Linked DNA regions of Homo sapiens. The gene in region 2 interacts genetically with the main gene of each other region. Each region holds a gene or a part of one and is shown on either strand. Other genes may lie near its edges.

Region 1 (4,332 bases), on a different chromosome or scaffold from region 2:
CTGTGCTGACTTTAGCCTCTTGGTGCCCTAGAATTTTTGTCTTACTGCAATTAGGCTGGGCACAGTGGCTCACACCTGTAATCCCAGCACTTTGAGAGACTGAGGCAGGAGGATCGCTTGAGCCCAGGAGTTGAGACCAGCCTGGGTAACATGGCAAGACCTCATCTCTACAAATAATAAAGAAATTTAGATGGACGTGGTGGTGCATGCCTATAGCACCAGCTAATCTGGAAGCTGAGGTGGGAGGATCACCTGGGAGGTCGAGGCTGCAATGAGCCGTGATCTCACCACTGCACTCCATCCTGGGCAACAGAGTGAGATCCTGTCTCGAAAAAAATTAAAAAATAAATAGAATAACAAAGCAGTCTAGTCCCATGGAGAGATAGGAAGGATCCTCAAATGTGGAAGACCCTAACCCAGACAGGACTGTGGCTGTCTAACAAACACCAGTCTCAAAAAAAGCAAGCTTAAGAATGAACTTATTATAGTATCAATGCGGTGATTACAAATTACTCAATATTTCCTAAAGACCATGAGAACTCCAGAACCCATTCTTACACAGGCCCTGTGGAAGAATCCAAGCAGGAATAATTGGATTATTTCCAGCCAGTGACTTTCAGGAGGACCACATATCTTCAATGTCTTCACATTGTATCTGAAAAATGTATCTGAAGCACTCAAACACCAAGTCTACTCAAATACGCTTCCCAAGCAGCTTTTCTGTACATCTCTGCTGCTTCCAGACGATCAGCTGCTGAGATTATGCCACGACCTACAATGATGATATCGGAACCTCGTTTGCCAATAACTTCTTGTGGGCTATTGTACTGTTGGCCAAGATTATCTCCTGCAAGAAACACAAAAATTGTTGTTTCACATAATACAAAAATCAGAAAACCTGTCACATGACTTCTCTGAAAAAGTATCTAACCAGCTTTAAATAAAAACATGCCCCTACTTTCGTTCCCCTTTTGTACAGCAACTGCGTAAAAACAGGAGCTGAAGAGACTCACTGGGTAGGCCAGAGACGTCAAATGGAGAAAGATGATCACCAACTCCTTTTCAATGGTAAAGTTTATTTTATTTATTTATTTATTTATTTATTTTTATTTATTTATTTTTTTGAGACGGAGTCTCGCTCTGTCACCCAGGCTGGAGTGCAGTGGTGCTATCTCGGCTCACTGCAAGCTCTGCCTCCCAGGTTCATGCCATTCTCCTGCCTCAGCCTCCCGAGTAGCTGGGACTACAGGCGCCTGCCACCACGCCTGGCTAATTTTTTGTATTTTTTAGTAGAGATGGAGTTTCACCGTGTTAGCCAGGATGGTCTCGATCTCCTGACCTCATGATCCGCCCGCCTCAGCCTCCCAAAGTGCTGGGATTACAGGCATGAGCTACTGCGCCCCGCCCTATTTATTTATTTATTTTTTTGAGACAGAGTCTTGCTCTGTCACCCAGGCTGGAGTGCAATGGCACAATCTCAGCTCGCTGCAACCCCCGCCTCCCGGATTCAAGCGATTCTCCTGCCTCAGCCTCCCGAGTAGCTGGGATTAAAAGCGTGCACCACCACGCCCGGCTAATTTTTGTATTTTGAGTAGAGACAGGGTTTCACCATGTCGGCCAAGCTGGTCTTGAACTCCTGACCTCAGGTGATCTGCCCACCTCGGCCTCACAAAGTGCTGGGATTACGAGCGTGAGCCCCCGCACCCAGCCTTATTTATTTTATCATTATTTTTTCATGTAATTTTTTTCCAGAAGCATAAATTCAAGTTGCCCTAAATATTCACCCCCTCAATGTCAAATTTTAGATCATCTGTAGCTTAACAATATATTAAAAAAAGAAGTAAAACTCATATGTTGCAAAGAAAGGTTCAATATCAAAAAAATACAATAAAGATTGGCCTCACAATTGAAGAAAATTTTAGCACACATCTTAGAATCACCACAAGGCACTGCTGAGCAAGTCTAACCTGACCACTACCATATACAAGAACCCCATCAAGTGGTCACACAGACTATCCATAAACCCGAATCCTTAAATTTTGCTTTTTTATTAAATTCCGCTGTTTCAGAAGCATTCTGTTAAATGGCTTATTATCTTCCAAATCCAAGATACTTTAAGTATTCTTAAAAGCCTAGACCCTAACTATAATATCTAGTCAAACAATTATTAGGGCTTACGAATAAGGGCTTATAAGTACAGAGTGTTTACTCTGTGCCAAGACATTGTGTTAAATATTCTACATGTTATCTCATTAAAGCATCTTGATTACCTTATGAGGTCAATACTGTTATCATCCCCATTTTACAGACAATTAGACTAAAAGAAGTAAACTGACTTGTCCAAAGATACATAGTTACCAAAGGGCTCATTCATTATTGTTCTAGACTAAGAAGGCTTTTCTTAAGCAAGTGTATAATAATATGCAAAGTTTTATTTTGCCTGCCATGGGTAAAGAAGCATTTTTGGAAGAGCCACGACCAGTGACCAGATTTACCTCCTGCTTCCAACTGAACTCCTGGAGTCAAGTGAAGAAATTCTGGTTTCATGCTTACTCGGGAGCCAGAAATAAAACCAACAACAAATTCAGAGTGCTCCTCAGCCATTCTAACCTAAATGGAATGTAATAGGACATATTATAAGAAAACAGTTAATCACACAGAATAAAAGTAAAAATATGCTCTATTTTTTCAAAACTTAAAAAAAAAAAAAAAAGACATGAGGTCTCCCTATGTTCCCTGGCTGGTCTTGAACCCCTGGGCTCAAGGGATCCTCCTACCTTGGCCTCCCAAAGTGCTGGGGTTACAGTTGTAAGTCACCATGCCTGGCTTATGCTCTATTATCTAGTTAGAAACTTTGCTGTATTATAGATGCCTTTTCTCATTCCATATATATAAAGTTACTATATCTGAAACAGGTCATCTTAGATAGAAACCATAATAAAACACATCTGCTTCATTAAGACTCTGAGATGACCCTTTCCCTTCCCTTCCCGCAATAAACCATACGTAAAGCAGAAATCCTATACTATATGCATCTAAAATCAAGATGCTGCATAATTTCTTATTTCTAATAATGCTTGGTGACCCACCTACTTCCAAAAAGGATTTGAGGCGAGTACTCTAGAACATATTATAATGGTATGAAACCACATTCAAGGCTTACTGACTATCTACAGACGGGGTACTCCATATCCAAAGGCAGCTGTCATGTAAAGAACAGCTACGCTTTCAAGAGCTAAAGAAATCTCACCTCTACCACTTTCCCTCTTCTGTAACATCAACTGGTCTCCCCAATTTCTATACTATTATCTCACATTCATAAAAGTCTCTTTAGAAGGTCTGCCTGGCTTTCTGATTCGGTAGGTACTTTCCCCGAGACGTGACTCCCATACTTCCCTTCTTATTTGATACTTCCCGGAGACCAGACTCAGTACCACCACTGCACTCCAGCCTCGGTACTTCGAGACCTGAGACACACATTGATACATTCATTCTTGCCACCAAGTACTACTGCCAACAAACAAGTCATGTCTTGTCCTTGAGCCAGACCCAGACTCCCAGAATGCCAAATATTAAAACTGACTCATGGCCCCTGTGATTTTGAGACTTGGGAAATCAGACAGTTATAGTCAATTCAGGGATAGGGTTAAAACCTGACTGTAGGGCCATATGAGTTAAGTCTCCAAATAGTCTGAAATAATATGAAAAAATGGAAATCCTTTACTTCTAGAATCTTCACATGGGGATTGTCTTGGGGATTTCATTTTTAAAAAAATCATGGGGATTTTCTTGGGGCTTTTTATTTTTAATTTTTTTTGACAGGCTCTTACTCTTGCCCAGGCTGAGGTAAAGTGGCATGATCATGGCTCCCTGCAGCCTTGAACTTCAAGCTCAAGCGATCCTCCCACCTCAGCCTCCCAAGCAGCTGGGACTATAGGCACGTACCACCATGCCTGGTTATTTTCTTTTTCATTTTTTTGTAGAGACGAGATCTCACTATGACGTCCAACTCCTGGCCTCAAGCAATCCTCCCGCCTTGGCCTCCCAAAGTGCTAGGATTACAGGTGTGAGCAACTGCGCCCAGCCCCCTATGGCAATTTTTTTAAAGTAATATTATATTCTAAAATATCTGACAAGAATAAGAGAAAGCCACTGCATGTGGGCTGCTGTCATGGGAATGTGCATCTCTGTAGGACTTGGGAGATTCTGAGAAACTGCATGTCTGGGAAGCTCTTCTCATCTTCTCTCAATTCATGGTAAGATGAAAAAGACATTATCTTAAAGTCCTGGTAGATTTAGTAAGTGTTTGTTTGACTAACTATCTGGGTCTCA
Region 2 (5,129 bases):
CAAGACCAGCCTAAGCAACATATGGAGAACTGTGTCTATGAAATTTTTTCTTTTTTTTTTTTTTGAGACGGCATCTAGTTCTGTTGCCCAGGCTGGAGTGCAGTGGCGCGATCTCGGCTTACTGCAACCTCCGCCTCCTGGGTTCAAGGAATTCTCTGCCTCAGCCTCCTGAGTAGCTGGGATTACAGGCGTCCGCCATCACACCCAGCTAATTTTTAGTAAAGATGGGGTTTCACCATCTTGGCCAGGCTGGTCTTGAACTCCTGACCTCGTGATCCACCCACCTCGGCCTCCCAAAGTGCTGGGATTACAGGCGTGAGCCACCGTGCCTGGCTCTTTTTTTTTTTTAATAATCCATGCAGGGTGGTGCACACCAAGTAGTCCCAGCTACTTGGGAGATGGGAGGATCACTTAGGACTAGGAGTCTGAGGCTCCACTGAGCTGTTATCATGTCATTACACTCCAACATGGGCAACAGAGTGAGACCCCATTTCTAAAACTAATAATAAATTTAAAACTAAAAAGTATTTCAAAACTTGATCCCTCTGACCCGTTCTGGGTATGTCAATACCCTTCAGGCGTTTTGTGCTCACCTTCCATCTGACCACTTGACTATCCGAGCATTGCTTTCTTTAATTTCATTTCCTTCTTCATCTCGGCGTATCCTCCATCTTATAGTATTTTCTACCTGTTTCACAACACAAGTACTTTAGAAAATTATAGTTTAAATGACTCTATGCATCTTGTTTTTCCTCAAGAGGCACATAATCACAGAATAAGCATACAGAGGTGACAGATGTATGTGTGGCAGGAGAATGAACAACACTGAAACCCTCTTTAATCACCTAGAGAGGTTGGATAAATTAAAAGCAGGGAAAAAAATATGCTTAAGTGAATTTCTGAGCTCCTAGAATCATAATCATAGAGAAAGCTTAGAGCATTTGAGCAGATGGCAGATACTAAATGTACACTAACCCCGAGATGTGTTAAGACAGTAAGAATTACAAGGGTCAGGCGATAAAACTTGAGTCCATGTGAGGCAGAAATTTTTTTTTTTTTTTTTTTTTGAGACGGAGTCTTGCTCTGTCGTCCAGGCTGGAGTGCAGTGGCGCAGTCTTGGCTCACTGCAAGCTCCGCCTCCCGGGTTCACGCCATTCTCCTGCCTCCGCCTTCTCAGTAGCTGGGATTACAGGCGCCCACCTCCAAGCCCGGCTAATTTTTTCATATTTTTTAGTAGAGACAGGGTTTCACCGTGTTAGCCAGGATGGTCTCGATCTCCTGACCTCATAATCCGCCCGCCTGGGCCTCCCAAAGTGCTGGGATTACAGGCGTGAGCCACCACGCCCGGCCGAGGAAGAAATTTTGAAGTGAAACCCCTGTATAAAGCAAGTTCTCTCACAGAGCTAAAAACTCCATAAAAATGAGACCAAAAACTCTGCCTATTGGCACAGAGAGATAAACTTCCCATATATGAATAAGGATAAATAAGTGCCCTATGAAAATGAAAACCCCAGATTTCAATAGGTTTAGAGCCTAACTATCTTACCTGCATGGTGGGGAAACACCAGAGTTGGCAAATGAAAACCACTGTTACTGAAAGTAAAGTCAGTGGGATCTCCAGGAAAACATGGCATACTAAACGCATGCAGTTTATCACTGCTGCCTCCTGGAAACCCACTAAAATGACAATGAAGAGTAAAAACAGGACATACAAGGATAGAAAGAATGAGAATGAAGCTGGCAACAGACAGAAGCCAACAATGTGAAAACTGCCAATGCCAAGACCATGCTTCCCTCTGCCTGTTCCCCCAGTGTCAATCCTAAACACAGCTGCTCCCAGTCCCACGGAGATCGTCTGGATCTCCACTCCTTTAGCTGCAAATGTCTGTGCAGCTGGGTCCTAATGATTCCCCCTTCCAGTTTTTCCCCTTTCCCTATTTATTCCTCACAAATAGCTATAAAGTGTGCTGATTGAATAACTCCATCATATTTATGAATTAAACATGATGTCATACCTGAAATTTGTTTCAGAATAGTCTGGGGAAGCTGGGGTGGGGAATATGTAGATGACAAAAGATTGTTAACTCGACAACTGTTGAAGTGGGTCATGGGCACATGAAAGAGTTCATTATATTGTTTTTAATACATTGGTGTATGTTTGAAATTTTCAGATTGAAAACAAAACAATCTGTCACTATTCCTGTCTTCCATCTCATACAATAGGTTGGCCACATATAAATACACAAATATGCCGGGTGCAGGGCTCACACCTGTAATCCCAGCACTTTGGGAGGCCGAGGCAGGCAGATCACCTGAGGTCAGGAGTTCAAGACCTACCTGGCCAACACAGTGAAACCCCATCTCTGCTAAAAATATACAAAAATTACCCGGGCATGGTGGCATGTGCCTGTAATTCCAGCTACTCGGGAGGCTGAGGCTGGAGAATTGCTTGAACCCGGGAGGCGGGGGTTGCAGTGAGCTGAGATTGCGCCACTGCATTCCAGCCTGGGCGACGACAGAGCAAGACTCCATCTCAAAAAAAAAAAAAAAAAAACCACAAATAGGCCATTATTAATTGAGAAGCCGTTCTAAAAAATGCTTTCTATTATATAAAGTGATTCAAATAGTAATGATGCTATAATAGGACACATTGCTAGGTCTTAACCTATCAGGATGAAGGACACATAATAGTATTTCTGAAGACAGGGGACCTCAGAGAGGTACATAAGCTGTACCTGGTTCCCTGGTTCCTTGTTCTTAAAGAATTAACTACACCATGCTTTAAGACTGGTCAGCGTAGTCTTAAACATCACTCAAGAAAATAAGGGTCCAGGGTTATTTCCTATCACACACCAAGGTTTTAAGACAACAGTTTATGTTAAACACCAACATTTTGTAGTCTGATGCACTGAAATTTTAGGGTAAAATACATATTTATAAATTTTTTTTTGGGGGGGAGACAGGGTCTCGCTGTGCTGCACAGGCTGGAGTGCAATGGCACAATCACAGCTCACTGCAGCCTCAAACTCCTGGGCTCAAGCAATCCTCCCGCCTCAGCCTCCTGGAGTAGCTGTGACTATGGGCATGCGCCATCTCTGCTGGCTAATTTTTTTTTATTTTTAGTAGAGACAAGGTCTTGCTCTGTTGCTCAGGCTGGTCTGAAACTCCTGGCCAGTCTTCTCACCTCGGCCTCCCAAGGTACTGGAATTACAGATATGCGGCACCATGCCCGGCCTTTGAAGTCTGACACCCATACTAGAATCTGGTATCACATGGTCTAAAAATATAATAGATATATTGATACTAGCTGTAGCATCATGACAGAAAGTAAGAAAAAGGAAAAAGACAAAATTAAATAAATTGATAAAAAGTGAATAAGGAACTACTATATTAGTTTATATGTATATGACAGGAAACAATGAAAAGTAGTAGAATTAAAGCCAGAGGCACTAAAACAACCATGAAAAATTGATACTGCTAAGCCTAAATCAATACATCCATGTGTCCCAAAGAAATAATATTAACAGATGGGCTAATAAACAGATGAGTAGATGGGTGGTGGAGGGAGGACAGGAAAAAAAAATAGTGTAAGCAGTATATCTGTTGACTGTGTGATCTTGAACAAATTATTAGCACCTGTTTATCTCAGTTTTCTTATTTGATTTGCATTTCCATTAAGAGGAGTAGTGAAGTCTCACTGAAAAGCTTTTGGATAGAAACCATCTTATATCAAGGTTATTTAGGTAGTTGTTAATATACCACATTGAAGAGATGGTACTATTAAAAATATAAAAATTCAGTGCCTAAAAAATGCCAGACTATCCCTTTCTAACAATTTAATAAGGTACCAAGGCCAGGCGCGGTGGCTCACACCTGTAATCCCAGCTCTTTGGGAGGCCGAGGTGGGTGGATCACCTGAGGTCAGGAGTTCGAGACCAACCTGGCCAACATCGTGAAACCCTGTCTCTACTAAAAATACAAAAATTAGCTGGGCATGGTGGTGCATGCCTGTAGTCTCAGCTACTTGGGAGGCTGAGGCAGGAGAATCACTTGAACCCAGGAGGCAGAGGTTGCAGTGAGCTGAGATCATGCCACTGCCCTCCAGCGTGGGCGACACAGCGATGCTCCTTCTCAAAAAAAAATATATAAATACCCACTAGAAAATAAGAAATTTACAGGAAATCCTTCGGATTTAAGAATTGAAAATGCATAATTCCAGTTTCAGTATCATGCATTCAACCACCTCTTGTTCCCTTGTGCAACTCAATTCTAAAATGTCTACTTGGCCAAGTGCAGTAGCAATCATGCCTGTAATCCCAGCAATTTGGGAGGTCAAGGCGGGAGGATCACTTGAGCTCAGAAGTTCAAGATCAACCTGGGCAACACAGCAAGACCTCATATCTACAGAAAAAAAAAAAAGGCTGGGCATGGTGGCATGTTTTCTGTAGTCCCAGCTACTCAGGAGGCTGAGATGGGAAGATCACTTGAACCCAGGAAATTGAGGCTGCCAAGAGCTGGGTTTGTGCCGCTGTACTCCATCCTGAACAACAGAGCAAGACCGTGTCTCAAAATAAAAAGATGAAACTTCTGCTGAACCTACATCCTCCTTACTTAAAAGATTAGAGGCCCTCCTTTGATAGCGTGACCAGATGGTATAAGGTATCAAAGAGAAGCATTAATGGGAATTTAGTACAATAAAATTCTTTCCTAATAGTCAACAAAAGCAATCAAAAGAACACAGCCATATAGTGAAGTGTTAGGTAAAAAAATCACTTTCAAAAGCTCAAGTTTCAAGTTAGTATCTCCAGGTTTTACTTTATAAAAGAAAAAAAAGGAAAAAGCATGAAATGGTACCTTTAATTTTAACCTGGTTCTACCTTCTTCATCCAGCATTTCTTCATCTTCAAATTCATCTTCATAATACTGAGGATCAAAAGGTCTACAAATTGTTTTCCAAATAAACTATTAATCATATTTTATAAAGAATATTACTGCTATGTAATAACATCTCTATTAATAAACACCATTATATCAAAAAATCATAATATAATTTTAAAAATCATAATGATCAATATCTTCATGCTTAACTTCAAGGAAGTAGTAATTGTACTTTTTTCTTTTTTTTTTTT

The links.
Region 1: changes in LEO1 (region 2) and UMPS together harm fitness more than expected from each alone (negative genetic interaction), as found in Homo sapiens cells (one large-scale study listed by BioGRID).

What each region holds. Positions count from the first base shown.
Region 1 is NC_000003.12:124,740,430-124,744,761, reverse strand, and holds part of UMPS (uridine 5'-monophosphate synthase), read right to left. Parts: intron 2,611-4,332; coding exon 2,496-2,610; intron 848-2,495; coding exon 678-847; 3' UTR 1-677. UniProt on the Homo sapiens protein: Bifunctional enzyme catalyzing the last two steps of de novo pyrimidine biosynthesis, orotate phosphoribosyltransferase (OPRT), which converts orotate to orotidine-5'-monophosphate (OMP), and orotidine-5'-monophosphate decarboxylase (ODC), the terminal enzymatic reaction that decarboxylates OMP to uridine monophosphate (UMP).
Region 2 is NC_000015.10:51,953,888-51,959,016, forward strand, and holds part of LEO1 (RNA polymerase-associated protein LEO1), read right to left. Parts: intron 4,940-5,129; coding exon 4,855-4,939; intron 689-4,854; coding exon 594-688; intron 1-593. UniProt on the Homo sapiens protein: Component of the PAF1 complex (PAF1C) which has multiple functions during transcription by RNA polymerase II and is implicated in regulation of development and maintenance of embryonic stem cell pluripotency.